3 separate regions of the Homo sapiens genome follow, and regions 1 and 2 are each linked to region 3. Evidence: fine-mapped expression QTL. A gene starts in region 3. Each other region holds a variant in brackets. All regions are shown on one strand. Distances are between the middles of the regions. Region 1 overlaps HERPUD2 (HERPUD family member 2). Region 2 holds the start of LINC03013 (long intergenic non-protein coding RNA 3013). Region 3 holds the start of HERPUD2-AS1 (HERPUD2 antisense RNA 1).

What was found.
Region 1: its variant is fine-mapped to the expression of HERPUD2-AS1 in monocytes (Quach 2016, PIP 0.95). The same link has a PIP of 0.9 or more in monocytes after LPS, monocytes after Pam3CSK4 and monocytes after R848.
Region 2: its variant is fine-mapped to the expression of HERPUD2-AS1 in whole blood (INTERVAL, PIP above 0.99).

Annotation. Positions count from the first base shown.
Region 1 is chr7:35,659,820-35,670,176 of GRCh38, forward strand. It overlaps HERPUD2 (HERPUD family member 2), which reads right to left. Exons shown (of 9, transcript NM_022373.5): 5 at 7,615-7,769. Among named protein-coding and RNA genes, the nearest start is that of HERPUD2, 30 kb to the right of the region's middle. The variant T/C (reference allele first, on the strand shown) is at 5,520.
Region 2 is chr7:35,711,653-35,722,009 of GRCh38, forward strand. LINC03013 (long intergenic non-protein coding RNA 3013) reads left to right here and starts at 4,785. Exons shown (of 2, transcript NR_108083.1): 1 at 4,785-5,216; 2 at 7,418-8,060. The variant G/A (reference allele first, on the strand shown) is at 4,222.
Region 3 is chr7:35,691,142-35,701,498 of GRCh38, forward strand. It overlaps HERPUD2-AS1 (HERPUD2 antisense RNA 1), which reads left to right and starts at 4,065. Exons shown (of 1, transcript NR_136255.1): 1 at 4,065-8,272. HERPUD2 (HERPUD family member 2) reads right to left here and starts at 3,994. Exons shown (of 9, transcript NM_022373.5): 1 at 3,660-3,994; 2 at 3,043-3,486. The coding sequence starts at 3,189. RefSeq lists an enhancer at 3,133-4,020 and a silencer at 3,463-3,872.

The DNA.
Region 1 (10,357 bases), 31 kb before region 3:
TATTTGAGATTTTTCTTTTTTTTCTTTTTTCCTGTTCTATTTCATCTTTATTTTTTTTATTCCTTTATTTTATTTTATTTTACTTTAAGTTCTAGGGTACATGTTCACAACATGCAGGTTACATATGTATACATGTGCCATGTTGGTCTGCTGCACCCATTAACTCGTCATCTACATTAGGTATATCTCCTAAGCTATCCCTCCCCACTCCCCCAACCCCACAACAGGCCCCAGTGTGTGATGTTCCCCACCCTGTGTCCATGGGTTCTCATTGTTCAGTTCCCACCTATGAGTGAGAACATACGGTGTTTTGTTTTCTGTCCTTGCGATAGTTTGCTCAGAATGATGGTTTCCAGCTTCATCCATGTCCCTATGAAGGACATCAACGTATCCTTTTTTATGGCGGCATAGTATTCCATGGTGTATATGTGCCACATTTTCTTAATCCAGTCTATCATTGATGGACATTTGGGTTGGTTCCAAGCCTTTGCTATTGTGAACAGTGCCACAATAAACATACGTGTGCATATGTCTTTATACCAGCATGATTTATAATCATTTGGGTATATGCCCAGTAATGGGATGGCTGGGTCAAATGGTATTTCTAGTTCTAGATCCTTGAGGAATCGCCACACTGTCTTCCACAATGGTTGAACTAGTTTACAGTCCCACCAACAGTGTAAAAGCATTCCTATTTCTCCACATCCTCTCCAGCACCTGTTGTTTCCTGACTTTTTAATGATCGCCATTCTAACTGGTGTGAGATGGCATCTCGTTGTGGTTTTGATTTGCATTTCGCTGATGGTCAGTGATGATGAGCATTTTTTCATGTGTCTATTGGCTGCATAAATGTCTTCTTTTGAGAAGTGCCTGTTCATATACTTTGCCCACTTGTTGATGGGGTTGTTGGATTTTTTCTTGTAAATTTGTTTAAGTTCTTCATAGATTCTGGATATTAGCCCTTTGTCAGATGGGTATATTATAAAAATTTTCTCCCATTCCGTAGGTTGCCTGTTCACTCTGATGGTAGTTTATTTTGCTGGGCAGAAGCTCTTTAGTTTAATTAGATCCCATTGGTCAATTTTGGCTTTTGATGCCATTGCTTTTGGTGTTTTAGACATGAAGTCCTTGCCCATGCCTATGTCCTGAATGGTATTGCCTAGGTTTTCTTCTTGGGTTTTTATGGTTTTAGGTCTAACATTTAAGTCTTTAATCCATCTTGAATTAATTTTTGTACAAGGTGTAAGGAAGGGATCTAGTTTCAGCTTTCTAGATATGGTTAGCCAGTTTCCCCAGCACCATTTATAAAATAGGGAATCCTTTCCCCATTTCTTGTTTTCGTCAGGTTTGTGAAAGATCAGATGGCTGTAGATGTGTGGTATTATTTCCAAGGGCTCTATTCTGTTCCACTAGTCTATATCTCTGTTTTGGTACCAGTACCATGCTGTTTTGGTTACTGTAGCCTTGTAGTATAGTTTGAGGTCAGGTAGCGTGATGCCTCCAACTTTGTTCTTTTGGCTTAGGACTGACTTGGCAATGCGGGCTCTTTTTTGGTTCCATATGAACTTTAGTTTTTTCCAATTCTGTGAAGAAAGTCATTGGTAGCTTGATGGGGATGGCATTGAATCTATGAATTACCTTGGGCAGTATGGCCATTTTCACGATATTGATTCTTCCTATCCATGAGCATGGAATGTTCTTCCATTTGTTTGTGTCCTCTTTTATTTCGCTGAGCAGTGGTTTGTAGTTCTCCTTGAAGAGGTCGTTCACATCCCTTGTAATTTGGATTCCTAGGTATTTTATTCTCTTTGAAGCAATTGTGAATGGGAGTTCACTCATGATTTGGCTCTCTGTCTGTCTGTTATTGGTGTATAGGAATGCTTGTGAATTTTGCACATTGATTTTGTATCCTGAGACTTTGCTGAAGTTGCTTATCAGCTTAAGGAGATTTTGGGCTGAGATGATAGGGTTTTCTAAATATACAATCATGTCATCTGCAAACAGGGACAATTTGACTTCCTCATTTCCTAATTGAATACCCTTTATTGCTTTCTCTTGCCTGATTGCCCTGGCCAGAACTTCCAACACTACGTTGAAAAGGAGTGGTGAGAGACGGCATCCCTGTCTTGTGCCAGTTTTCAAAGGGAATGCTTCCAGTTTTTGCCCATTCAGTATGATATTGGCTGTGGGTGTGTCATAAACAGCTTTTACTATTTTGAGATACGTCCCATCAATACCTAATTTATTGAGAGTTTTTAGCATGAAGAGCTGTTGAATTTTGTAAAGGCCTTTTCTGCATCTATTGAGATAATCATGTGGTTTCTGTCTTTAGTTCTGTTTATAGGATGGATTATGTTTATGGATTTGCATATGTTAAACCAGCCTTGCATCCCAGGGATGAAACTGACTTGATCGTGGTGGATAAGCTTTTTGATGTGCTGCTGGATTCAGCTTGCCAGTATTTTATTGAGGATTTTTACATCGATGTTCATCGGGGATATTGGTCTAAAATTCTCTTTTTTTGTTGTGTCTCTGCCAGGCTTTGGTATCAGGATGATACTGGCCTCATAAAATGAATTAGGGAGGATCCCCTCTTTTTCTATTGATTGGAATAGTTTCAGAAGGAATGGAACCAGCCCCTCTTTGTACCTCTGGTAGAATTCAGCTGTGAATCCGTCTGGTCTTGGACTTTTTTTGGTTGGTAGGCTATTAATTATTGCCTCAATTTCAGAACCCGTTATTGGTCTATTCAGGGATTCAACTTCTTCCTGGTTTAGTCTTGGGAGGGTGTATGTGTCGAGGAATTTATCCATTTCTTCTAGATTTTCTAGTTTATTTGCGTAGAGGTGTTTATAGTACTCTCTGATGGCCATATTTCTGTGGGATCAGTGGTGATATCCCCTTTATCATTTTTTATTGTGTCTATTTGATTCTTCTCGCTTTTGTTCTTTATTAGTCTTGCTAGTGGTCTATCAATTTTGTTGATCTTTTCAAAAAACCAGCTCCTGGCTTCATTGATATTTTTGAAGGGTTTTTTGTGTCTATCTCCTTCAGTTCTGCTCTGATCTTAGTTATTTCTTGCCTTCTGCCAGCTTTTGAATGTGTTTGGTCTTCCTTCTCTAGTTCTTTTAATTGTGATGTTAGGGTGTCAATTTTAGATCTCTCCTGCTTTCTCTTGTGGGCATTTAGTGCTATAAATTTCCCTCTACACACTGTATTAAATGTGTCCCAGAGATTCTGGTATGTTGTGTCTTTGTTCTCATTGATTTCAAAGAACATCTTTATTTCTGCCTTCATTTCGTTATGTACCCAGTAGTCATTCAGGAGCAGGTTGTTCAGTTTCCATGTAGTTGAGCGGTTTTGACTGAGTTTCTTAATTCTGAGCTTTAGTTTGATTGCACTGTGGTCTGAGAGACAGTTTGTTATAATTTCTGTTCTTTTACTGAGTAAATTTGTTATAATTTACTGTTCTTTTATTTGCTGAGGAGTGCTTTACTTCCAACTATGTGGTCAATTTTGGAGTAAGTGTGATGTGGTGCTGACAAGAATGTATATTCTGTTGTTTTGGAGTGGAGAGTTCTGCAGGTGTCTATTAGGTCTGCTTGGTGCAGAGCTGAGTTCAATTCCTGGATATCCTTATTAACTTTCTGTCTCGTTGATCTGTCTAATGTTGACAGTGGGGTGTTAAAGTCTCCCATTATTATTGCGTGGGAGTCTAAGTCTCTTTGTAGGTCTTTAAGGACTTGCTTTATGAATCTGGGTCCTCCTGTATTGGGTGCATATATATTTAAGATAGTTAGCTCCTCTTGTTGAATTGATCCCTTTACCATTATGTAATGGCCTTTTGTCTCTTTTGATCTGTTGGTTTAAAGTCTGTTTTATCAGAGACTAGGACTGCAATCCCTGCCTTTTTTTTGTTTTCCATTTGCTTGGTAGATCTTCCTCCATCCCTTTATTTTGAGCCTATGTGTGTCTCTGCACGTGAGATGGGTTTCCTGAATACAGCAGATGGGTCTTGACTCTATCCAATTTGCCAGTCTGTGTCTTTTAATTGGAGCATTTAGCCCATTTACATTTAAGGTTAATATTATTATGTGTGAATTTGAGCCTGTCATTATGATGTTAGCTGGTTATTTTGCTCATTAGTTGATGCAGTTTCTCCCTAGTATAGATGGTCTTTACAATTTGGCATGTTTTTGCAGGGCTGGTACCGGTTGTTCCTTTCCGTGTTTTAGTGCTTCCTTCAGGAGCTCTTGTAAGGCAGGCCTGGTTGTGACAAAATCTCTCAGCATTTGTTTGTCTGTAAAGGATTTTATTTCTCCGTCACTTATGAAGCTGAGTTTGGCTGAATATGAAATTCTGGGTTGAAAATTCTTTTAAGAATATTGAATATTGGCCCCCACTCTCTTCTGGCTTGTAGAGTTTCTGCCGAGAGATCAGCTATTAGTCTGATGGGTTTCCCTTTGTGGGTAATGAGACCTTTCTCTCTGGCTGCCCTTAACATTTTTTTCTTCATTTCAACTTTGGTGAATCTGACAATTATGTGTCTTGGAATTGCTATTCTCGAGGAGTATCTTTGTGGTGTTCTCTGTATTTCCTGAATTTGAATGTTGGCCTGCCTCACTAGGTTGGGGAAGTTCTCCTGGATGATATCCTGAAGAGTGCTTTCCAACTTGGTTGCATTCTCCCCATCACTTTCAGGTACACCAATCAGATGTAGATTTGGTCTTCTCACATAGTCCCATATTTCTTGGAGGCTTTGTTCATTTCTTTTTACTCTTTTTTCTCTAAACTTCTCTTCTCACTTCATTTCATTCATTTGATCTTCAATCACTGATACCCTTTCTTCCATTTAATCAAATCAGCTACTGAAGCTTGTGCATGCATCACGTAGTTCTTGTGCCATGGTTTTCAGCTCCATCAGGTCATTTATGGACTTATCTATGCTGTTTATTCTCGTTAGCCATTTGTCTACTCTTTTTTCAAGGTTTTTAAGCTTCTTTGTGATGGGTTCAAACATCCTCCTTTAGCTGGGAGAAGTTTGTTATTACCGATTGTCTGAAGCCGCCTTCTCTCGACTCGTCAAAGTCATTCTCCATACAGCTTTGTTCCGCTGCTGGCAAGGAGCTCATGTTGCTGCCTAATCCTTCCTCTGGAAGCTTCATCTCAGAGGGGCACCCAGCCTTATGAAGTGCCAGTCGCCCCCCTACTGGGAGATGCCTCCCAGTTAGGCTACTCGGGGGTCAGGGACCCACTTGAGGAGGCAGTCTGTCTGTTCTCAGATCTCAAACTCAGTGCTGGGAGAACCACTACTCTCTTCAAAGCTGTCACACAGGGACATTTAAGTCTGCAGAAGTTTCTGCTGCCTTCTGTTCAGCTATGCCCTGCCCCTAGAGGTGGAGTCTACAGAGGCAGGGAGGCCTCCTTGAGCTGAGGTGGGCTCCACCCAGTTCGAGCTTCCTGGCCACTTTGTTTATGTACTCGAGCCTCGGCAATGGCAGATGCCCCTCCCTCAGCCT[T/C]GCTGTCGCCTTGCAGTTTGATCTCAGACTGCTGTGCTAGCAATGAGCAGGGCTCCTTGGGCATGGGACCCTCTGAGCCAGGCGCGGGATATAATCTCCTGGTGAGCCGTTTGCTAAGGCCATTGGAAAAGTGCAGTATTAGGGTGGGAGTATCCCGATTTTCCAGGTGCAGTCTCTCACGGCTTCCCTTTTGTAGTAAAGGGAATTCCCCGACCCCTTGCGCTTCCCAGGTGAGGCGATGCCCCGCCCTGCTCCATGGGCTGCACCTATTTGTCTGGCAAGCCCCAGTGAGATGAACCTGGTACCTCAGTTGGAAATGCAGAAATCGCCCATCTTCTGCATCGTTCATGCTGGGAGCTGCAGACTGGAGCTGTTCCTATTCGGCCATCTTGGCGCCACCTATTTCAGATTTTTCTAATCAGCTTAATATACTTCGAAGAGCTGAATGCTTTTGTCTTTTATGTTTATTAATTTTCTCAATAGCCTAGTTTAGAGAAATTATTAATCTTTTACCAATGTATCTATGGTCTTATTCTGAAGACCTGTAATCTTATAAGCTTGATTTGTTTATTACAAAATATATTCACTGTAAGTAAGAGAAAGAGTTATAAATTTTATCCAGAGATAACCACTATTAATGTGGCACTATATATTTTTCCAGGCTTATTTATAATACTCCCACCTTCCACCACTACCACCAAATAAAATAAGTAAAATCACTCTGTATAAACTGAGAGGAACTTACTCTGTGAAAAAGAAAGGAAGTGAATTACTGTCATAAGACAAAGTATTTGAAGCTACTGTTCCATAATATAAACCCTGAGAACACTGCTTTTTACAAGTAAATCTTGGTTTATATTAATAGTAATCACTTTCTGAAAACAAAAATAGTTTCACAGGTACTTTATGAAAGTCTACAACCAGCCTCATCTAAACATTTATTTTGAAAGAAAAGGCTTCACATTTAAGAAATCTGAGACAAATTAGTTCTCTTCTATTTGCTATATATTCAGCTTTGTTTTTCTGTATTAATAACTGAATTAAGTTTAAAGTTCTAAGTAAAAAGTACCTGAGTGTTTATGCCGTCCTGTTGAGCACAGCAGTCAATAGCTACTCCTTGGTTACACCACCTACATTACAATTCTGAGGTCCTAGCCATATTCTCATTTCTAGCTCCATCATCATGGATCCAGACCAGTGCCACACACTGCAGCCCCATGGCTTGATACGCAACACAGAAATTATCACTATCTGTTACTCAAGCTTCCTTTACCTCAAAAATAACAAACAATAATACCCCAGTAAAACAGTCTGCTTTCACACACAACCCTGGTCCAAACCATGTTCTCCAAGATCCTACTCTCTAAGCTGCTTTACCTGTGGCTGCATTTCCTCTGGAAGTGCCTAACCCAAGGGGCCTGCTGTAATTGCTAAATATAGGGTGACTATGGCAAGCTTCTTAAGAAAACTGCTTTATAAAACTCTCAATACAACAAAGATTCTGGACAACATGCAGCAAGATTAGCATATCCCTGTAATACATCATGGTTTTACTCTAGCACAGTTGTTACCAAGTTGATTAGAAACACTTGTGGAACGTTTAAAAACTTTTAAAAACAGATTGCTGGGCTCTGTACTCTTTCAAGTATACCTTCACTCAACCACATTCCCCTAAACACTAAATTGAGTAGATCTATAGTGAGACTGAGTAAAAAAAAATTAGTTACGTAGATCCTTGCTATTCAAAGTGTAGTCCAAACATCAGAAGCATTAGCATCATCTGGGAGCTTGTCAGAAATGCAGATTCTCAGGCCCCATCATACCTATTGAATACAAACCTGCAGCTCAACAAGGTCTCCCGGTGATTAGGACAAACATTCAAGATTGAAAGCACTGCCCTACATGATTCTCATGTGCAGCCAGGTTTGAAAAGCAGTGCTCTTCTTAACCCTCTAGTTCTCAAAATACAAAATCAAATATATGAATAAATTTAAAATGTACTTTAATTACTGCAAAGAGGCTATAGTGAAACTCAAAAGCAATTCATTTTTAGGGGGCCCCAATCACATTCCATAGCTACCACAATTTCACTTACCCTTGCATTACATATGGAAACTGGTGACTCTGTGCTTGGTCAGTTTGTGCTTGTGGAAGGGTACGCTGCCTCAATCCTTCTGAGGAAGAACCCACAGCTAAAGACAAGGTTTCTTGACCAGATGATGGAGTTGTTGATCCTGAATGATCTGAACTCTACAAATAAAAATGTAATTTTTAAAAGGAGATTTAGTTCTTTACAATCATAAAATTACAGGCACATTACTAAAAACGTATTCATGAAATCCCTCTGCAAAATAACATTTCAGAAATTTACTGTTTTACATCGTGTGTCCAGTATAAGTAGATATTTTAATTTTAGTACGTCAAAACTTATCAAAACTGCTTAATTAAACTAAAATATTCCATTTTTTCAACTAGAAATGGCCGAGGAGCAGAATAATAATATACAAAAACAGCATATTAAATTCTGAGGATTAAGTTAATGCATAAAAAGCTCTTTTCACATGATTAAATTAATGCATGCAAAGCTCCTTTCATGATGCCTAACACATACATTTATTGAAAGTGTTCAATAAATGGTACTAATTACTGAGTCATTTAAACAGTTACTATGTGCCAAGTACTGTACAACATGCTATTGTTAACATATTGATTTAAAGTAATGAGAAACAGGCTAGAAATCCTAGAAATCAAAAGATCTAAAATCTAGTGTTATCTCTGACATTAACAAGAGTTATAACCTTAAAGGTTCACTTAACCTCTCAGAGTTTCCACTTTCCTACAGAAAATGAGATTGGACTAAATTTTCAAGATTCCTTTCAGTTCTAGAATTCTATTAGTTTATAGAAATCACCAACAAATATTGCTTTTTTACAAAATGAACTACGAGAATCAAGATGTTAATCAGTATTTTTTTATTCTCATGCTCAAATCTTTTTATTCTCGTGCTCATGGATTCAGTAACCATAAACAATATAACTCCCTGAAGACCATCCCAATTTGTTTGAAAATAGTTTGTCAAGTGTTTCATGTACATTTAAAACACAATTACATTTTACATAAATTATAGTTCTTCCACTTTAAAAAGCTAGGTACAGTATTATTTTAACATCCTTCCTTTAACAATTTTGTTAAATTGTATTTTACCCGTACTGCCTTCCTATTGACAGGATGTCTTTTTGCATGACTCCCATGCTAAGTCCTGCAATGTGAAAGGTCCAAAACTGTCTTTTGCAAAACAGTCCACACCAGTCTTTTGCAAGACTAACAAAAACTTTTAAAATGTTACTTCACACACAATAGATATCAAATATCTTACTAAGGAGTCCGGATTCTTAGGAACATAAACTGGGAAAGGTTTCTTTTTCAGCAAGATTTCTCATTAAATGGGCCATCATAATACGGTGTTCATTAATACAATTATTAGAAGAAAAGCCTAGTCATTTGGCAGCACAACCTAATTTCTCTAGAACTAATGATTTCTGACCTTATTAGGTAATTATTTTATGATTAGATCTTTAAAATATTTTCAAGTCCCTTGAAATTTCTGAACCATGAAAAATTAAGGTGAATTCAACTTAACATTCCTTTGATACTTTTCAGGCTTTCATAACACTGAAAAAAACAAATATACACACTAATGACACAAAATCATGGCTGAGCAACCCACTGGACAAGTCAAAGTCAGAGGGTTCTTTCCCAACAAAAATTGAAGCAATGCAACTGTGTCCGACGACTACAAAAAAAAACTCTGTGCCAATGCCAATGTCTGTGCCTTTCCATGCCAAGGCAGGAAACATACAAAGACCCTTGGGTGTTTTGACAAGGCATATTTTATTTAGTTTAATGTAAGCTAAATTCCCATGGCTGGTACTAGGAAATAGTTACCATTAAGAGAATACAAATTAAATACAGCAACTGGAGAAGCTAGTTTCTTAAAGAAGCAGTTAACTAGTATCTATTGAGAGAGTTTTCAACTAGCTCCCACCCCTGTCACTTGTGCTCTCTTTCAAGCTTTGGCTGGAGTCTTGACAAGGAAAGCATACTTAGCAGTAGAAAAGTTCCCTGACTGCTCAAGAAGTTGAAAGCAAGCTTCCACTCATCCAATCCTCTCACCTGCAAAGGTGTCATAGAAAGCTTTTATGGGAAATCAAAAATAACATAAAAGGATTGGGGACAATGTTTTTGAAATTTGTAGAAAATGTCTAAATTGAGAAGGTCAACTATTACAAAACATTTCCAAAACAATTTTAGGCAGATGGAAAAATAAGGATGGAGGAATGAATACCCAAGTCTGAAAGAGATTAATACATTAAGTATTTCCTCCCCAAGCAGGTGGAATGTACACCCAAATCCAGTCATTTTTAAAAAACAAAATCCTTGACCAAGTCATCTACTTCAAGAAGATTTAGGGTACTTAAATTTTAAACAATTTAATCCACCTTGAATAAAATATACTATTTTAAATACCTGGCATATTTCTGAAACGTCATTGGCCTAAGAGTTTATATTATATAACCGTAACATAATTCCGTTTTCTGAGTATTCCAGTAATTAAACCTTTGAAGATTAAATCTATTACTGACCTGCCATACAGCAAATTATAACTCAAGGTGAATAGACTTCAAGGGATAACACTGCGTATTAGATCTTTCAAAATGGTAAACTTTACAAAATGCCTAACTTTAGTTCAAAACACAATCTCAAAATTCACAAGCTCCAATTGTTCTGTTTTTCATTTAGTTTTTAGAGGCAAAAAATAAGACGACGACGAAAAAAAA
Region 2 (10,357 bases), 21 kb after region 3:
TGAAGAAACAGATTAAGAAGAAAGGCATATTTTCAGAATTTATTATATAGTTTTGAAAGATAAAGACATATGTATGTTTATGTTCATCGCAGCACTACTCACAATAGCAAAGACATGGAATCAACCTAAATGCCCATCAGTGGTTGACTGGATAAATAAAATATGGTACATATATACTATGGAAACCTATGCAGCCATAAAAAAGAATGAGATCATATCTTTTGCAGGGACGTGGATGGAGCTGGAGGCCATTATCTTAAGTAAACTAACACAGAACAAAATGCCAAATACACAATGTTCCCACTTATAAGTGGGAGCTAAACAACAAGAACACATGGATACTAGAAGGGGAACAACAGACACTGGGGCCTACTTGAGGGGGAAGTGGGGAGGAGGGAGGGAATCACAAAAGAATACCAATCAGGTAATATGTTTATTACCCAAGTGACAAAATTATTTGTACAAAAAACCCCTGTGACACACAGTCTACCTATATAACAAACTTGCACATGTATCCCTGAACCTAAAATACAAAAAACAAAAAGCAAAATAAAAATAATCTAAGCTATTCAAGTAATGACCCAAAAGTTCTTCTATATGTTAGGAAGACCAGTAAATGCATTACTAAGCAGCTAGGCTGAGATAAGGGTGAGAGAAAGAGAGCTTTGGTGCTAGGATTTAATGGTCCTGTAGTCTAGTCCTGACTCTGCTGTCACAGTTTATTTAACTTCTTTGGGCTCTCAATTTTCTCTATAACATTAATCAGTTGGCCAGGCTCAGTGGCTAAAGTCTGTAATACCAGCACTTTGGGAGGCCGAGGGGGGTGCGGATCACCTGAGGTCAGGAGATCAAGACCAGCCTGGCCAACATGGTGAAACCCCATCTCAACCAAAAATACAAAAATTAGCTGGGTGTGGTGGCACGCGCCTGTAATCCCAGCTACTCAGGAGGCTGAGGCAGGAGAATCGCTTGAACGTGGGAAGCAGAAGTTGCAGTGAGCCAGGATCATGCCACCGCACTCCAGCCTGGGCAACAGAGTGAGGCTCTGTCTCAATAAATAAAATAAAATAAAATATAAAATAAAATAAAATAAATAATAAAATAATAAAATAAAATAAAATAAATAAAATAAAATAAAATAAATCTGTTGGACCAGATGTCCTTGGTGCTAATTTTCAATGATCTGTGACATCATAAAATAAAAAATATAAAGACTAAAAATTTATTCTAGCTCACATGCTTTCATTTTCTGTATGAAATAAATTTTCATTATGATATGTTGGTGAAGAAAGTACATAGTGTATTAGTACCCATTTCTCAGGACACAGAGTATATTTAACTAACTTATTATATAGCCATGTAATTTTGCCTACATTGCACATTTTGTTCACATCTATACTTTATTTACTTCTGAGTCCTTGCTGATAGGCCTCTCTCCTGATTATGATATTGCTTTTGTGGTGAAATAGGATCCACTTCCATGATCTGTGCATTGGAGATTCAGGAGCACATTGTAGAGACTTCTCGATGTAGGTGAATGATAAGGACTACGGATGTAGGCATACTGTGTTAGAATCACCTGCAGATTATTTGGCAGTTTTTAAAATTATTCCTGGGTCCTTCTGTTATAAGGATAGGGCCCTTTACTAAAGCTGCAAGCTGCAGAATCCTCCTCAATCTTTTTATTTTTTAGCTTTTATTTTTTTTAAGCTACTCCTGCTGGAATGGGAACCTCCTCAATCTTTATCAGGAAAACAACAATAACAATCGAATTTTAGAGGTTTTTTGAATTCCTGATCACAGATACAAATAATTAGTGGTCTGGAAAGTAGTTAAGTGTAATAAAAAATATAATGTTCCTTATAACATTGAGAGCTTTATAGTAACACAAAGGATGCCACACCCAACCCACCTCACTCATCCTCCCGCTGTTAACAACCCTGGTCCGCAATTTCAAAAGAAATGGCCTAAAATTCTTTTTAAACCATCATTTACGTTGAAGCCAATTTAAAAGTGTGATCAGGGATATAGACAACACAAGTGCTAGAGCTATAAAATAAATTTTGGTGATTGCCCAGGCATTTAATATCTTTTTTTAACCAATATTCCCTTTCTAAAAATATAAATTTATATGAATAATGGATTATTTATAATGATTTGTCTTTGAGTAACCCTTTTCCCCTTCTTTGTCATAGAGGGAATAATCCTAATTTATTGCTGGGGGAGTTGTCCTATATTGTCTTATTTCAAAAAGAAACAATCTACTTTTGTGAAAAGCCATCCTAGCATGTAACATTTTAGCACACTGTTTCTCAAGATGTTTGCACTCACAGACACCAATTGTATCATGTCTTTGGGATATGATAAAATTATGTTTAAAATTCATGTTAAAGCTATAGGGTTTTTTTTTTTTTCTGATCTACGTATCAGCCTTACCTCCACGGACTTCACTAATTATATTTAAGGAATTAGAAAACTTCCTTCCTTAATTTTATTCTCATTAATTTTTCTAGGACATTTATTAAATAAAATGGGTTGTTAAAGTATGTTAAGTGTGTAGGGCATGTAACCAGTCAAATGTCAAGGTTCTGAGTAGGTTGGATTTCATGGTCAAGGATAATCTCTTTTAATATTCACAATCTCATTCTTACATATTCCCATCTCCCCTAAGTCTTTCATTTCACTTCTATTCATTCCTACTTACTCCTACTAATATCTCCGTTTAGATTCTCTCATCTGACCTTTCCCACACCTCTTGCCCCACAGTAAGTTTTATTTTCCCCTCTTAACACTAATCACATCTACTCTGATTTGTAGACATTTTTCACCTAAAGCCCAGCAAAGGAAACACTGTCAACCTGTCAAAAAAAAGTGCTGCAATTGTGGAGGACAGATAAACAGGTGGTAACAAAAGCATTCTAGTGAATCTGAGCCAGGCTGGGAACCTGCTGGGCTGGCCTGACTCAGAGGTGGTAAGAGAAGGCAACAGGAGGCAGGAGGCAGCCCCATCACTGTCCGTTCCCAGAGCAGGAATGAGGAGGGTGCTCCCCACCCCAAGGCAGCAAGGGGGAAAATTCTCTAAGGAAGAGTCCCAGCAAGATCAAATATCAGTGCCATGTCCAAGGGGTTAGAGAAATAACCAAAGTCAGTGTGGTAGGGCCATGAGTTTACCTTATGGTTTGGCTTTATGTGGGTATATGGAAGTGCCAGCAGTGAGCTGAGAGCTGCCAAGAGAGGCAGAAAGCAGGTGTGTCAGAGATTTGGGGCCTCAATGGAAGTGAAATGTGATGGCAGAAGAAGACACCACAGGAGTTGTTGAGGCATTGGTTAGGAAGTGAACAGCAGAACTGGCAGAGGCTGCTGGGCCTGTTGGGGTACCAGGAGTGACAGAGAAGACTGGCAGCTGCAGAGCAGGACAGACCAGATTGGCCAGTACAACAGCAGAGGGCCATGTTGGGCTTTGACTCAGGAATCCTGGTGGAGGCAATGATGAGAGAGAAGAGATAAAACACACTAGGTAAGCCAAGGTAGTTGTCAGGATAGAAGGAGACAGGCAGGCCAGATGGCTGTTAACCGTGTGGTGTGTCCCAACTTTCCAGCATCAATTTAATGGCCAAATTAAAATGTAAGTCAACTTAAGCCAAGGTCAATTTTAATCCTATGCTTTGCTGGTGATACAGAATCATTAACGGTATCAATAATGCCCACATTCAACTCATTCTACAATGGGGGCAATTGTAATTTTGGTCTGGATATGTTTAACAAAATGGAAAGGAAGAAGGCAAAACCACGGAACTATTTTTTTTTTTTCTTTAGACGGAGTCTTGCTCTATCTGTCACCCAGGCTGGAGTACAGTGGTGCGATCTTGGCTCACTGCAGCCTCCGCCTCCTGGGTTCAGGCAATTCTACTGCCTCAGCCTCCCGAGCAGCTGGGATTACAGGTGTGTGCCGCCACGCCCTGCTAATTTTTGTATTTTTAGTAGAGACGGGGTTTTACCATGTTGGCCAGATGGTCTTGATCTCCTGACCTCAGGTGATCCGCCCGCCTCAGCCTCCCAAAGTGTTGGAATTACAGGCGTGAGCCACCATTCCCAGCTGGAACTATTTTTTTAAACTGATGCACATTAATAAGATTTAGAAAATCTTGAGATTTAATGGACAGTGTTGAGATTCATATAACTTTATGTTGAGAATTCTCTTTCCAGGAATTATTTATTTCA[G/A]TTAGTCACATTTTTATCTTCTACTGAAGTGTAAACTTAATTTAGTGTAAATAACTACCATTTGAATACTAACATAATCTTTTTATTTGTATAAAAAATACAAAAAGATTGTTTATGTGTGTGTACACATATGTGTCAAGACTAAAAATTAAGCACGGGGTAAAGTCTTTGGCAAAGGACAAATAGTCGGCAAGTTCACAGATTAGAATTTAGAATTCCATCATGAAGTGGACTAAATTGTTAGTTTAAAGAAGACTGTGAGTGTCAGCACATAAAAAGGTAATCCTGTCTCAATTGTAGCTACAGATTGCAAGTCCTGTGTCAATTCAAATTTTTGCCAGCAGATACTAATGACTTCATTGAAAGCAGATGTTTAGAAATGAAAGTATAAACACAACCCCAGTTGATTAATATGCTTATTGTATTTCCTTGTTGTGAGTCTAGCGAATATTTGATTATCTTTAAGTTGATCCATAGTATATTCAACAGTCTCATGAGAACATAATTTTTGTTGATGATTTGTCCAAAGTTTCTATCAATCCATCTTAGCAGCAGAGCCAAGTGTTAGAGTTATTGCTGCCTGAGTTATAACAGCTGCCCTGGGAATCTTGTCTGAACAACAAGTTAACTGCTGTTCCCAGTTATATCTGGTCTTTCCCACCCCCAAACATACACAAAAGATTTTTGTCATTCTTGGCACTGGACAACAGAAGTGATAAGACATGCCAGCAGAACTCTAAAGGCAGAATGTCCTTCCACCTGTTTTATGCTGTAAGACAAACTTCCAAGTGCGAGGCAGTGTGGAGGGCTGTTGCCTTGAATGGCAGCTGAATGCACCAGCGGGATCCTTGGCAGCAATGCCCAGGCACTGAAGTCGGGCATTCAGGAGAGCTAAATGGAGAAAAGAAACTTGAGCAAACTGCTTCCTGGAACACTGAGAACCTGAATGGGAAATTAAGAAGAACCAGATTCTTTCTATTCTTCCACCAGCCAAGGTCAGATTTCCAAACTTCTATTGATTCTAATCTTTCCCAAACAGTGCTGTGGCAATGTATGAAAGTAATAAAAATAATCCTTTTTCTGTTAAAAAAAAAATTGCTGTTACTTGCTGTTTTGTTATGCTTTTGCTGGAGATTTTCCCACCCATCTTAAAGCAGCAACTTCAGGATGGGGGAATCAAGCAAAACCATGGTGAAGAGATTCATTTAAAGAGGACAAGTGATTTATTCTACATCTCAGGAGACAGTTCCTTAAGGTGAGAGGTGTTGCCTATGCCAACTTGCTTATTGCCTCTTTTGATGTTATCTTAGCAATAAGCTGGGGCTAATCGTCCCCAGTTTGGGAGACTTTGAGGCAGGGCTAACTGCCACAGTAAAAGACCCATTAACAGTAAGGAGGGTAAATGGATAGCAAAAAACCTAGGAGAATCCACAGGCTTTTGTTAATTTTATTCTATCTGCCTGGTGTTTCTGGAACTCTAGTTTCAAAGTTAGAATACCCAGAATCCCAGCAGCTGAGGAAAGTAATAACCAGTGTCTGGGGGCGAGGGTGGGGAGGGAAGCGAGGGTATAAAGAGGATGAGAATTCTTCTAGTTATTTTCAGTTTTTACTGAAACTGAAGCTTTCCTGAAACTTTAAGTTTTTAGGAAACTTAAAGATAATTGTTTGTTTACTTAAAATACAGCCTCAAGGATACTTTTAGTTTAAAAAAATTTCTTGACTACTTGATTTCCTCTTGGGAAGATTATTATTTAACAAAAATATGTATTTATAAACAAAATATTTCAGAACAGGAGTCTGTGGAGAAATAGTCTTAAAAGGACTTTTCAGCAGTGATAAGATAAGAAACACTGCCCTAAAGAAAACTGTTGGCTGGGCGCGGTGGCTCATGCCTGTAATCCCAGCACTCTGTGAGGCCAAGGTGGGCGGATTACCTGAGGTCAGGAGTTCGAGACCAGCTTGGCCAACATGGTGAAACCCCGTCTCTACTAAACACACACACAAAAAAAATTAGCCAGGCATGATGGCGCATGACTGTAATCCCAACTACTTGGAAGGCTGAGGCAGGAGAATCGCTTGAACCCGGGAGGTAGAGGTTGCAGTGAGCCAATATCGCACCATTGCACTCCAGCCTGGGCAACAGGAGCAAAACTCCATCTCAAAAATAAATAAATAAATTAATTAATTTAATTTAATTGTTTAAGGGGTGTCATTTTCCAAATTGTTTTTATGAAAAATTTACAAACAGTGGCTAGTGTCCCATTGTACTGTGTATCTAATTCAGTAAAAGTACTGAAGATTCAAAAAGATTGTTAGAGTGGTTGTGGAAAATTCCAGAGCTGCTGTCACCAGCAGAGCCTTCCTTTACTGAGTGTCTCAGTGCCAGTATAACAAATCCTAGACACTGGCTTTATTGGCCAGTGGTGCAAAGAAATAGTAAAAATTCAATAAAAATATTGCTTGAACCAGGAAGCCTCCTCATAGAGTTGTGGACTCTTCAGAGAGGTTTTACCAAAGTAAGGGCAGAATGTGTATACCGTCTTTCAGGGATTCAAGAAATGTAGGCAACAATGTCTATTATTAGCCCTCCTCTCCTTCCATGAGCAAAACCCAAATTACTTGTTTTTAATTGGCACAAAAGCACATTCAATCATTACATTATCAGACATTGTTCATGTACCTATCATATGCCAGGCTGTGTGCTAAGAGCTGGGGATCTGAAGATGAATAAAATGTACCCTGCCACAATCAGGATTGGCAACAACTGACCTAGGTGGCTCACCTGCATTGTCTGGATAACAAGCCAATTGGCACCTGAGGCCCCCAACCTTATCCCCACAGGAGGGGTTCGTCCAAACTGCTCATGAGACCAGTTTCTCCCTTCCACAGACCCCAGTGCCTTCAGGTGCTGAAAGTTGACTTTCCCAGGCAACTCAGAGAGCTGGTGTCTAACCCCACACTGATGTTACTCAATAAGTCTGATTACCCTCCCACCCACTAGGTTGTTCTCACTCTTGCCCTATAAGAAGGAGAGCAGCAAGGGGACAAGGAATGCCCACCGATGGTGTGTCCAATAGATAACTTTGGCCCATCTCTTATCTTTATTTGTTAATTCTTGCTTTGTAACTTTCCCCCAATAGAGCCCATGAGATTTCATGGAAATCATCACAAAATAACAAACCTTTTTGCGTGACAGGTGATGAGCACAAAAGGATCCATCTTATACAGTGCTTGCCAGCTTCCATAATACTACTCACCACGATGTTGAAATCACCTGTTCCAGAACCAGTCCTGTCCTTTGACAAGAAGGATTTAATTATCAGTAGTGGTGGGGACTGGCTGGAGAGAGGAAAAACACTTCAAGGACTCTGCCACCTTTCGTAGATGGAGAGTGCAAAGTTTGTACCATGGAACTCCTTCTCTAACAGTTACTCTGTGGCAGTGCCTATTTCAAACCTCCCTTAACTTCTGATTGTATAGATGTTTGTTTCATTTGTTCATCTGTTTGTTCACTTAGTCAGAGATGTTTTAAGCCTTAAGAGAAATAGTGGACTAGAAAATGCCTTGGAAAAGTACAAAGTTCAATCCAAGTAAACTGTTTTTAAACTAGGAATTTATGAAGCCTAAAATATAAAATGTATATACATGGATATGCTCTGAAGTGAGGTAGAGGGGTAGAAATCAACATTGTGATATTGTACTATAGTTTTGCAAGATGTTACCATTGGGGGAAAATGTTTGAAGGGTATACGGGATATCTCTGCCTTATTTCTTACAACTGCATGTGAATCTACAGTTATCTCAAAATAAAAATTTAATTAACAATTGATTACAATTAACAGCATTAATTTCTTATCCTGTCATTTTCCTTCTCCTGAAATTGCAGAATAGCCAAACAGAAACCTACCCATGACCACCATCTGAGATTCTTTGGTGCCCGTATTAGTGGACATAGGCAGGTGTATCAGGAGGCATCCAGTCACGCATACTGGAAGATACTGACTCAACTGATTTAAGCAAAGGAAAATACAGTGTATTATATAATGAGACATCTTGAGTAGGGTAGTCCTAGGGTCAGTTGATTCAGCAGCTTGATTGATAATCAAGGGCCCAAATTCTTTCCCACTTTCTACCCTGCCATCCTCAGCCTATCAGTTTCGTCCTCCAGCTGGCTTAAAGGTAGTTGCAAGGTGGCTGCTATCATGCCATGCAAAATGCAAATGCAAAAAGTATGCAGATACAAAAAGTATCTCTTTTCATAAGTCTCATTTTAAGGGCAAGGAAAAACCTGCAGGCCTTTCTGCCACTCTCTTGACCCACTTACTTAACTGTGGAACAAGTCACAAACACCTGTTTAAGTGGATCACTTGGCCAGGAGGGAGAGATTGCCATTATCCTTAGATGGAGGAGAATGGGGGTGGGGGTTGTTATGCCTGAACATAATCAGTGCTCTGCCAGTGAGTAAGAGCAGAGATGGGGTGATTAATAGGCAACCCCTCACCAAGGAGCCATTGTAAAGCTTCAGGCCAGTTCAGAAGGTGATGAAGATGGAAAGCCTCCAAAGCAACCAGAACAACCAGAAGGAACACGCTTTTACAGCTTGCTTCTGATTCCACACCGCGAGGACAATGGGTCCAGCATGCCACACTGATCCAGGAACTTAGAACTAAGTAAGAAGCAAGGGAGAGAGGCTGCTATAGCTGAAACCCAGAGAATGAACTTTCTCCCAGGAGGTTGCAAGGGCTGCCCTTGTAAAAGATCCTGTCCTGGGTTTAAAGGTTAGCAAATTTTCTGTTTTGTTTTGCTTTGACTGCATGAGGGTTGAGTTAAAGTGAAATAATATTTAAGACTTATTTTTTAAATAAGATATTTTATGTTTTTATTTTTGTTTTTTTTTTTTTTTTTGGTTGGTAGAGACAGGGTCTCACTGTGTTGCCCAGGCTGGTTTTGAACACCTGGGCTTCTAATCCTCCTGCCTCAGCCTCCCAAAGTGCTAGCATCACAGGCATGTGCCACCACACCCAACCCCTTAAAAGTCTTTTTACAAATGAGAACATGAACAATTGCCTTTCAGATTATTTCCTGGTCATCAAAGATTTCTTTCTTTATTTACATAAAGGGGACAGGGGTCAGTCTGTGTATTGGAAGATGTGCCCATATTTGGTCACATATTGGAAGAGTACAAAATTGCCCAAATAAGGGATATTTATTGCCTTCCTGACTGCAGACTCAAGGAGGCAGGAACTTTGACATTTTCTCCAATGCCTATCTGTATCCACATTGCCTGTAACATAGTATATGCTCAATAAATATTGATTGAACTAATTAAAAAATGTCATTCTCTACTCCCAAACTATAAAAACCTGGAAGGGTATATTCTTGCTGGATGGGAGCCTGAAGAAGACAGGAAGGGAGCTAAAGATATCTCTCTTAGTCATTCTCTGTGTCCGACATATGCCCACATGTATAGTCCTAAATGCCACTGTCTCTCAGTTGGTTTCTATCAGGACCTAAGCCCTGTGGAGACAGCAGCTTGCAGAGTCTCTAGCCCAGGGAAGCAAGAGGTGGGCCAGATGGAATCCCCCAGCTCAGGGAAGGTCTTACCTATCCATGCATTTGAGGAAGGAGGAAGTGGGACAGTCATTCACCAGTCTAAATCTTACTGCTAAAACTAGACCGAGTGCTACATCTCCAAATCTGGAGGGCCAGGATATCTGTCACACAGGCAGGCCAAAAATTGTTCTTCCCAGGGTGGGGACAGTGGAAGCCATATAAACACTTGCCAATTAGTTCATCTACATTTTAAAAAGGTGCAGAAAATTCTTGTTCCTTTCCGCTGGAGGAACTTTACAAATGACCTTGACAAAAACCCCTCAAAACCTATAGAACCAAATTTTATTATAACGCTCTTTTTATTCCCTTGCTTCTATTTCCTCCTTTCTCTTCTTTTTCTATTTCTTTTCCTTTCTCTTTCTTTACATTTCTCCCTCTTTCTTCCTGCTTGTCCAGCTTTTCTTCCTCTTCCCCCTTTAAGGTGATACTTTGGGACTGAAAGTATATTTTAATATTTATCTAAAGCAGTTGTTTCTTTGTCCATGGTTCCCTGACCCTTCACAGAAAATAATTCTTCCATCCT
Region 3 (10,357 bases):
CTAGTTATATAAATAAATGAAGACCCAAAAAAATGTGCTTTGAGGGGGAGGGGTACATTTGTTCTAAGTTTGCTAGGGGAGGGAGAAGTGAATTTAATATACCCATATGGAGACTGTGATTAGTCAAATCAATATCTGACCATGAAGCTAGGATCCCAAGATTTTACAACTTCATAGAGTTCAGCCAGAATTCCATTAACAGCATATAGACATATGACCTATCTTTGTAGGATCCTAAAAGGACAATCTCAAATTTCCATTCTTTCCCCTCTAGCAGCACCAATTTATTTTCCTAGAAGCCACTGCCCACAGGAACAAAGTCCCTCCACCTACTCCTGACCCATCAGATCCAATTAGAGCAATGTTGATGAGAGCCATCAACTTTTTACTTACTGGGGCACTCCTGTTCCTACAAAGCACTGGAGCCCTACTCTGCTAAGTCCACACACTGATAATGAAAGTAGGCATATGTGCAAGGAAGATGCACAAGAAATTATCTCTGTTAAACATAACAGCACTTGAAAACTAAAACACAGAATCAATGTTTAGTCATTGCAGGCGGTCAGAAAAACCTAAACTTCCTTTATAATATTACTTAATAGCAAACTGTGCTGAATTCTAAATAATGACCTTACAAAGTAAACTTTTAGGACTCCAACTCCTATGCTGAGGACTACCTATGGCTTTGCGATACCATTAAACTGCTGCTCAACAACTGTGATGCTTCAAATCAATTCTCACGTGATAAGAATGTAAACTTACTAAATCTAGTAACTATACAAAGTTTTCAGTGAAATTCTATGACGATAAACACACATACCCCCACCGCTCCAGAGCTCCACCCACTCAACCTAGAAATGAAAGTCAGACATTACAATTCACTTAAAGAAAACTTGTCAAAGGAGAAAAAAAGGTTTGCCATGTTAATCATTAATAGGCTGCATAGTATTTGGTTTAGCCTCCAAAAGTGTCTCCAGTGTGGCTACAGGAGGCAGGCAGTTTGGGAAGGAGTTCTGTAACAGATCTCATCCTCAGACAGCTAACTAATGCACAGCGGCACTGACATCCTCCACTAGTGATCAGTGCTGCACAGGCAGACCTCCTGCCAAAAGCAGGCCTCTTCATGGGTAGATAAGGCAGACAGGCTTCCCACTCCCGTCTCAGGTACTTTTTTTTAAAAAAGCTTTAGAAAAAAGTCTATAAACTGCAGACTAGGTCCCTTTTGGTTTAATAGTACAATGTAAAGATCTCGCCTACGTACATACCAGAGCATATATTTGCTATGAACAGTATTATGGAAGTCTATGACTTTCAATTGACTATCCTAAAAACCTATTTTCCACTTCAAAAATGTGTGAAACTAATCATATGCAACAGGAAATCTTTTGTAATCAAGGTATTTTCAAACAGATTCTTACTCCCTGTGTAAATCTTAACTTTCAAACAAAAGATGTGAATAAACAGGGGCTCTAACTAGTTTAAGTACTTAAATTCCTCAGGGTTTTTTTTCCCTCCTACTAAAAATATTTGTATCACAAAGTACTGATAAACACAGCTAATGCCGATTAAGAGTTGTTTTTCTAAACCTCCTGTTTTTGCAATAACCGTCCTATTTCTGTGGTTCTTCTGCAAGTCTAAAAGCCTAACTAAACTTAATACTACAACACTGAAATGCTCATAATTCATTAATATCGTAATATAGATCAAGTGTCTTCCTTAACTTAGGTGCATAAAACAAGTGTTAAGTGTAGAAAGCATAGTTGCCTTCCAACAGATCCATGCTTAAATGTACCTGATGCCAAAAGTTATTTCCCACCCTAAAATCCGACCCTCTTTATTAAACAAAAGTTTTAGTAATTAAACACTACTTATTCAAGAATAAAAAATGTATACAGTGGAGAATGCGAAAGCCTCACTTTCATATACAGTACTCTACATGACGGTATACTTCTTTTCTAAACTATTCCAAGACTCCTTGATTACCAACCACGGCCTTTCAAATCTGACTTTGGGGACAGATGGAGCTGTACTGTCTATATTTTATTTATTATCTCTGCAATATCCAGTTATGATTCAGAATGGAACACAGAATGGAAAAGCCATATGAGAGGGATGCACCAAATGGTGGTGGGGTGGAGGGCAGTTCTCTTTTAAACTAATGTCCATGTATCCTCTACAGGAGAAAAATGTTGAAAGGGGTTGTGGTGAAAACGAATCTACAACTTATAATTCTTTGGTCCTTGAAACATATATAGTAACCTTGAAAGTATAATTTTTATAGGGGACACATACTTATTTCTAAGAAAAAAAAATCTTCAATTTCTGTTTAAGTTTCTGGGCCAAGTGTTGAAAGTAAAATGGAATTTTAGTGTAATAAGCAATAAAAGCTCTGATACGGGTTGTAGTGCTTTATCTTTTTTTTTTTTAAGAAAGGATATATCTCTCACTCGCATATTAGGTTGATGACTTTAAGTCCAAAGAAAGTAGTCCCTTTTCCATGCCTGCCAATTCTTTGAGACAGAGTCTCACTGTGCCACTCAGGCTGGAGGGCAGTGGTGCGATCTTGGCTCACTGCAACCTCCGCCTCCCGGGTTCAAGCGATTCTCCTGCCTCAGCCTCCTGAGTAGCTGGGATTACAAGCATGCGCCACCACGCCCAGCTAATTTTTGTATTTTCAGTAGACATAGGGTTTCACCATGTTGGTAAGGCTGGTCTCGAACTCCTGACCTCGTGATCCGCCCGCCTTGGCCTCCCAAAGTGCTGGGATTACAGGTGTGAGCCACCGCGCCCGGTCTTTGCCTGCCAATTCTTAAGTCCCTTGATATTTCTGCTTCCTCTTACTAATTAACTGAACCTCATCAGGAAAATATTAATGATGGTTCGAACACTCAGGAGACACAACCTCAGAACTCAAAATACCTCGCGGTCTACCAAAAGAGACCTATTTGATTCAAGACTGGAGGGGAGAAGCAGGAAAAAGGAGGGTACACGGCACGAAAAGCTGCTGGTCAGAGCAGCTGCCCCCAGCTTTTACACACTTACTGGTTTGCTAGGGTAAACGTTAGATAGATGCGTTTTTAGTTTCCCCACGGTCCAGTTCAAGAAGCAGCTAATAGTCTGGTCACTGTATTTCTGATTCGGTGCTTTAATGATGAGGGTCACAGGAATCTCCATCCCACTTTGGTCCATGGTGCCCCCAAAGTCAGACAGAGTCCAGAGGAGCGGCAGTTAAGCCCAAAAGAGCCGAGATGGTCACCGCCGGCGCGACTGGGATGAGGACAGAAGTGAGTTCTTAGTATTCCGTGTCCAAGTCAGTTACAAGTGCACTGGAGGATACGAAGCCCATTGCCGGTACCAAGGATGGACTGAGGTGGTGGCGACTGCGACGGTGGGGTCTGGGTGCCCGGCCGTGGAGGCAGCTCTCCCCGCCAGGTCCGGGCTCCGCCGGGCTCCGGACTGTGGAGGCCGTCGTGAGGAGAAAGGAAGCTATACGAAGGAAGGGTGGGAGGGATGAGGGCACAACGGCCGGCCCGGGGTCACTGCCCCGCCCCACCGCGACCCCCAAGCTGGAACGCAACAAGGCCCCTACGCCACGGCCCCGCGGTGCGGATCGGGGAAGCAGCTGGGCCGCTCAGGGCGGTCAGCGGGCACTGGGGTACCTGAGAGAAGGCCGCGGGGCCCGCCACCGCCGCCCTCCGCGCCCAGGCAGGGCCGCCAGCCACACCGTCCGGCCAGGCGTTTTCCGTGGCAGCCGCTCCCTTCCTGCTGCGCGGCGACCGGCACGGCCCAGCCCCGGGTCTCGCGAGGAGGCGCGGGTGAAAGGGAGAGAAGCTGACCGAAGGCGCGGCCCGGCTCTCCGCCTGACCCCTCAGTCTGGACAGCGCAGGGTGGCGGCAAGGCAGGGCTGGGCCGGGGGCGGCCCAGGCGACTACAGGTAGCAGGAGGGCGGGGACGAGAGCCGTTGCGCCACCGCTGGCGCGCCGGTTTTGTTGTTATTGCGAGGATTGTCTGGGGCCCCTTTAAGCCGGAACAGGCAGGGCGGAAGTGCGTCACCGGCGGCACGCCCCTGCACATGGACCTCCCCCGTCCCCGCCATCCCTGCCGATCCTGTTGCTGCCGCCTTCCCGCCGTGCTCGGGCTGCCCGGGACTCTAGCCGCCAGGCTTCGCGTCGCCCAGCGGCAGATCGGGCTCCTGGGAGCCTCTCCCCTGGCCGTTTGCTCGGCCTCGGCCCCAGCTGCCCTGGGGCCTAGCCACTAGCTCCCCTGGCGCTAGCCTACCCTGTCTTGACCGCACCCTGAAGATTTGGGAAGTCTTTCTCCATCCCAAGAGTCGTCTCTGCAAAAGTTGGTGTCCTTCCTGGTGCTGAACCACGCTTCTGCTCAAAATGTGTTGAGCGTCGTCTGTCTGCAAAGCACGGTGCCAGGAGCTTTGGTGGAGAAGGCATGGGGTACATGTGTAAAGAGTACAGGCTTTTGGTTAAACCTGAAGTCCTCCTCTACTTTCTGGGGGACCCTGGCCGTCCTTGCTGAGCCTCCGTTGACTTCTCTAATGGGGACGGTAATGCCTACCTGACCACAAGCTGATGAGTAAATGAGCTATGAGTGCAAAGTGTGGTGCAGTTCTGGCGTGTGCCAGCCTCTCAAGTGTCAGTTTCCGTCTCATTCCTCTTAATCTTCACTAAAATGGACAAGTATTCATTGAGCACCTAATGCGTGTTCAGTATGGTGGGAGATGAGGGATGACAGTATTATTTTTCTATTTTATAGGTTAGACATAGAACAAAAGGTTGAGTCTATTGCCCATAGCCGAACTTTTCTTCATTTTCTACTGTGGTTTAGAAGTCGGTATAGTAAGTTAAGGGTTGTTAGATGTGCATTTTCACAGCTCCCAGCTTCCACTTAGGAGTAGATAACATAGGGGACTTTGCGAGCTGGTCTCTTTCCCTCTTAGCTTCAGAAGGGCTTCGAGGTAGCCACCACTGAATTAGTTGAGAGACAAGGCACCCCTACGGAGGAAATCTCAACTGCACAACCCCTACTGTGCCCCAATTCAGCAGGAAGCAGTTAGAGCGGTGGTCAAACCTCCCCAATAGCACTTGGGTTTTCCTGTTGAGAGGGGGTACTGAGAGACAGGACTAGTTGGATTTCCTAGGCTGGCTAAGAATCCCTAAGCCTAGCTGGGAAATTGACCACGTCCACCTTTAAACACGGGGCTTGCAATTTAGCTCACACCCGACCAATCAGGTAGTAAAGAGAGCTCACTAAAATGCTAATTAGGGAAAAACAGGAGGTAAAGAAGTAGCCAATCATCTATCGCCTGAGAGCACAACAGGAGGGACAATGATCAGGATATAAACCCAGGCATTCAAGCCAGCGGTGGCTACCCTCTTTGGGTCCCCTCCCTTTGTATGGAAGCTCTGTTTTCACTCTATTAAATCTTGCAATTGCACACTTTTCTGGTACGTGTGTGTCACAGCTCAAGCTGAGCTTTCGCTCACCGTCCACCACTGCTGTCTGCCGCTGTCACAGACCCACAGCTGACTTCCATCCCTCTGGATCCAGCGAGGCGCCCATTGCTGCTCCTGATCGGGCTAAAGGCTTGCCCTTGTTCCTGCAGGGCTAAGTGCCCAGGTTCGTCCTAATCTAGCTAAACACTAGTCACTGGGTTCCACGATTCTCTTCCATGACCCACAGCTTCTAATAGAGCTATAACACTCGCCGCTTGGCCCAAGATTCCATTCCTTGGAATCCATGAGGCCAAGAACCCCAGGTCAGAGAACACAAGACTTGCCACCATCTCGGAAGTGGCCCGTCACCATCTTGGAAGCGACCTGCCACCATCTTGGGAACTTGGGGAGCAAGGACCCCCAGTAACATAGTGACCAGGAGGAAATTCTTCCTCTCAACAGCTAATGCAGCAGGATCTCTTACACCGTACCCTCCCTCACCTTGCTCTTGCTCTTCATGGTAGAACACGTACCATATCTTAGCTGTACTCTATCAACTGCGCATCTGAAGTAAAGAGTGAAGTCTTCTTTGTTTCCAGTCATGGAGCAACAACTTGCTATGATACTGGCCTTCTGTAGCTGACTCTTCTTTGTCTACCCAGGCACTCTAATGGAACTTTAATTCTAGCTAAAGTTATTTTCTCAGACTCCTTTGAAGCAAGGGGCAGCCATTTGACACACTTCAAGCCAATGAGTTGAATGTTGAACTTATTGCTGAGGCTTCTAAGAAAGCATATAGATGGAAGGGCTCTGCGAATCAGAGCTCATCTTTGCCCTACACCTGTCTTCCAGGAGGAACGTGAAGAGCTACAGCACTCATAGTTCAGTCATGAAACAACAAACAGGAGAACAATGGCCTGCATTCCAAGGATGGCAGAGCAGAAAACTGTAAAGAGGCTGGGCATTTGATGGCATTGTGGTGCCACCAGACAAGCCCTAAGCTATCTTCCCTAAGACTTCTTGTTTTGGGTCAAATTCCTGTTTAAGCCAGGAAGTTTTCACAACCTTCACCACCCAGTCCTGCAGCTGTTGTCTCATGCTTGTGACTCAGACTTCCAGGAATCCTTTAGAAGTGATGTGGTGATCTCGTTTGGCACTATGCAATGTACACTATTAATGAAGGTACCCTAATAATTATAAATATTAAGACAGAATGTGCATTTCACAGTGATTTAAACACTCTTTAACACTCTTTAAAACAGTCCATCAAAGGTTCGCTAACACAGAGAAAAACATTTAAAATTGTAATAAAGGCTGGGCGCAGTGGCTTGCCTCTAATCCCAGCACTTCAGGAGGCCGAGGCAGGCAGATTGCTTGAGCTCAGGACTTTAAGACCAGACTGGGCAACACGGAGAAACCCCGTCTCTACAAAAAAATTCAAAAATAAGCCGGGCGTGGTGGTGCACGCCTGTGTTCCCAGCTACTCTGAAGGCTGAGGTGGGAGGATTGCTTGAACCCAGAAGGTAGAGGTTGCAGTGAGCTGAGACCATACCATGCACTCCAGCCTGGGTGATAGAGTGAGACTCTGTCTCAAGAAAGAATAAAAAGTAAAAATAAAATTGTAATGAACATTCAAGAAATTGAAATATACGGGTACAAAGATGATATAGTATCAGAAAAAATGATTTTTTTTAAATTTTACAGCCACTTGAATTAAGTACCTAAAAATGCTTTTGATGCTGTTGAGCTTGGCTATGATAACAACAGTATGTAAATATTCCACTTTTGTTAAAATATGTATAAACAGGTATGTGTACAGAGCAGTGTATGAAAGGGTGGTCCCCAGAATATTGATAGTGTTTGACGTGGAATTTGGGCTAGGAAAAATAATTACCAATGAGGAGATACAAGATAGCAGCAGTTAGGGAGAGGCCGTCCATGCAGCTGCCTATTTAAATCACTGTCCATGTTAACAGATAAGAACTGGAAATGTCAAAGAACAATTGCCCAGCTCAGTTACCATCTGCTACTAAAGATAGCCCCAGCTGGGTGCGATGGCTCACACCTGTAATCCCAACACTTTGGGAGGCTGAGGCAGGTGGATCACCTGAGGTCAGGAATTCAAGACCAGCCTGGCCAACATGGTGAAACCCCATCTCTACTAAAAATACAAAAAATTAGCTAGGTGTGGTGGTGCATGCCTGTAATCCCAGCCACTAGGGAGGCTAAGGCAGGAGAATTGCTTGAACTCTGGCAGCAGAGGTTGCAGTGAGCTGAGATTGTGCCACTGCACTCCAGCCTGGTCGACAGAGTGAGACTCAGTCTCAAAAAAAAAAAGCCCGTAATGAGAACTCTCAAGAGTACCATGGTAATATAATATGGTAATAGATAATAAAAGAGTCATGATCATTAATAATAAATATAATACTTCTACTTCAACTGAGGAATGGAAAACTAAACATCATATGTTCTCATATGTCCCTAAGCTATGAGGATGCAAAGGCATAAGAATGATACAATGGACTTTGGGGACTTTCAGGGAAAGGGTGAGAAGGGCGTAAGGGATAAAAGACTACAAATTGGGTTCAGTATATACTGCTCGGGTGATGGGTGCACCAAAATCTTAAAAATCGCCAAAGAACTTATGTAACTAAATACCACCTGTTCCCCAAAAAACTATGGAAATTAAAAATTAAAAAATAAGTATAATTTCTGCTTTAGCGATATTAACTATTCAGTACACAATAAGTGAGTTTAGCAATTCAGTGATTTCTGACTGTTGGGTAGCTCTCTTTGTTAACAAATAAAATATAAATTTGAAGAAACTTATTTGTAAATAATGGTTTTCTGTGAATTAATGGGATGTTTGTTTACTTCCACTTCTTCTTTGAGGTGTAAAAGAGAACAGCTAGAAAACACATATTGTGGCTGGGGCGGTGGCTCACACCTGTAATCCCAGCACTTTGGGAGACCGAGGCGAGCGGGTCACTTGAGGTCAGGAGGTTGAGACCAGCCTGGCCAACATGATGAAACCCCGTCTCTACTAAAAATACAAAAATTAGCTGGACATGGTGGCACGCACCTGTAGTCCCAGCTATTCAGGAAGCTGAGGCAGGAGAATCGCTTGAACCCGGGAGGCAGAGGTTGCAGTGAGCCAAGATCACACCACTGTACTCCAGCTTGAGTGACAGAGTGAGACCTCCATCTTGGGGAAAAACAGTAAAAAAAAAAAAAATTGATTCATTCAGTGAGATTACAGTTTCCTTTAAAAATTCAAAGTAAGTGCTTGTCACTGAGCTTTTCTTACTGAAATTTGGAGTACCTTCCAGGAAGCTAAAATACTTTTATGATGTTGAATAGTATAGTTTGAGTTTGTTAGCTCTCTTGGAAGGAAAGACTTCAAGTGATGATCTTGCGGTTTCAAGTTTCAGAGATGATGTTGGCCATCTGGCTTCTGATTCCATTCATTTCTACTTTCACCATCCTTGTCATTTTTTAAAGAGACTGTGTCACAAAGCATCTAATCAAATCTTAATCAAGTTTATTGTTTTTAAAAAATGAAAACCTACATTGGAAGCCTAAGAAAATTAGCTCATTTCAACACTCTACTTTAAAAATCGTAAATGGTCCCAGATGTTTGATCACAAGTCATCTTGTAGGAAATGAAACAAAACCATTCATTAAATCCCAAATGGTGTTTTGAATTATATGTCATCTAATGAATTCTTAGAACAGTCTCGAGAGATAATGAGGACACTGAAGCTCAGAAAGGGTAAGTATCCTGCCCAAAATCACACAGTAAGTTCCAAATAGAGCTCTGTCCCCACTGTAATGCACACACTTTCCACTACACTGAACTTTATTACTTAAAGATAATCATGGGTAACAAGACACATTCAGGAGGAAAAGGCTTTCAGGAACATCTTAGAGATCATCTAGATCAGTCTTCTAGGTACTGCCAGAATGAATCAGTCTTACCACATCTCTGAAGGGTGATCAGCCAATTGACATAGCTCTTTCCAGAGACAAGGAGCACCATAGTTTTTACTGCAACATGACAGGTTGTTAAACAGCCATGGTGTTTATAAGTGAATTGAAATTTGCATTCCTATAATTTGTCATTGGGCCTACAATGATCAATCCAAAATGTGTTTACTCTTATTCCACATGCCAGCCCTTCAAATAGACAGCTGTAAAATGCTCTTTATATCTTCTGCAGACTAAATAGCCTTAGATCCTTCAACAATTCTTTAGTTTCCAGATCTTTCAGAATAGTGACTCACCTTTGAACACACTAGTTTGTAAATTCCCCCATAAATTATGAACACAATAGGCACAGTAGTTCATACAGATTGTGATTTCCCTATAATAGTCTTCATAAAGACACGTCTGTATTTCTATTAGTTTGTTAATAGAAATCTACCTAATCTGGTTTAGCAGTTGAGTTTCCTGCTTTTCAGGAACTCTATGTCTAGTCAGTATTTACAGTGACCATTTGGCTAAGAGAGAAACCTCTTGTTTCTCTGATGATTCAATCTAGTGACTTATTTAGGATAACAATTGGAGAATATCGTAGCTAAATACCATCTCACTGAGGCTCTTTTAGGTGACCAGAGAAGTAGTAAGGGAAAGAGGGCAAATCACTTACACTGTTCACCCTTTGAGAATTTTTACCTAAGGGTATGTGTTAGTTGTCTATTGCTGTAAAACAAATTGCCTCCAAAACTGTGGGTCAGAAATTTGGGAGCAGCTTAACTGGGAGTCCTGGTTTGAGGCTCTCATGGCATTGCAGTCAAGATTTCAGGTGGCATTCAGTCATCTGAAGACTTGATTGGGACTGGAAGATCTACTTTCCAGATGTCTCACTCATAAGGCTGGCATGCTGGTGCTGGTTATTAGTGTGAAGTCTC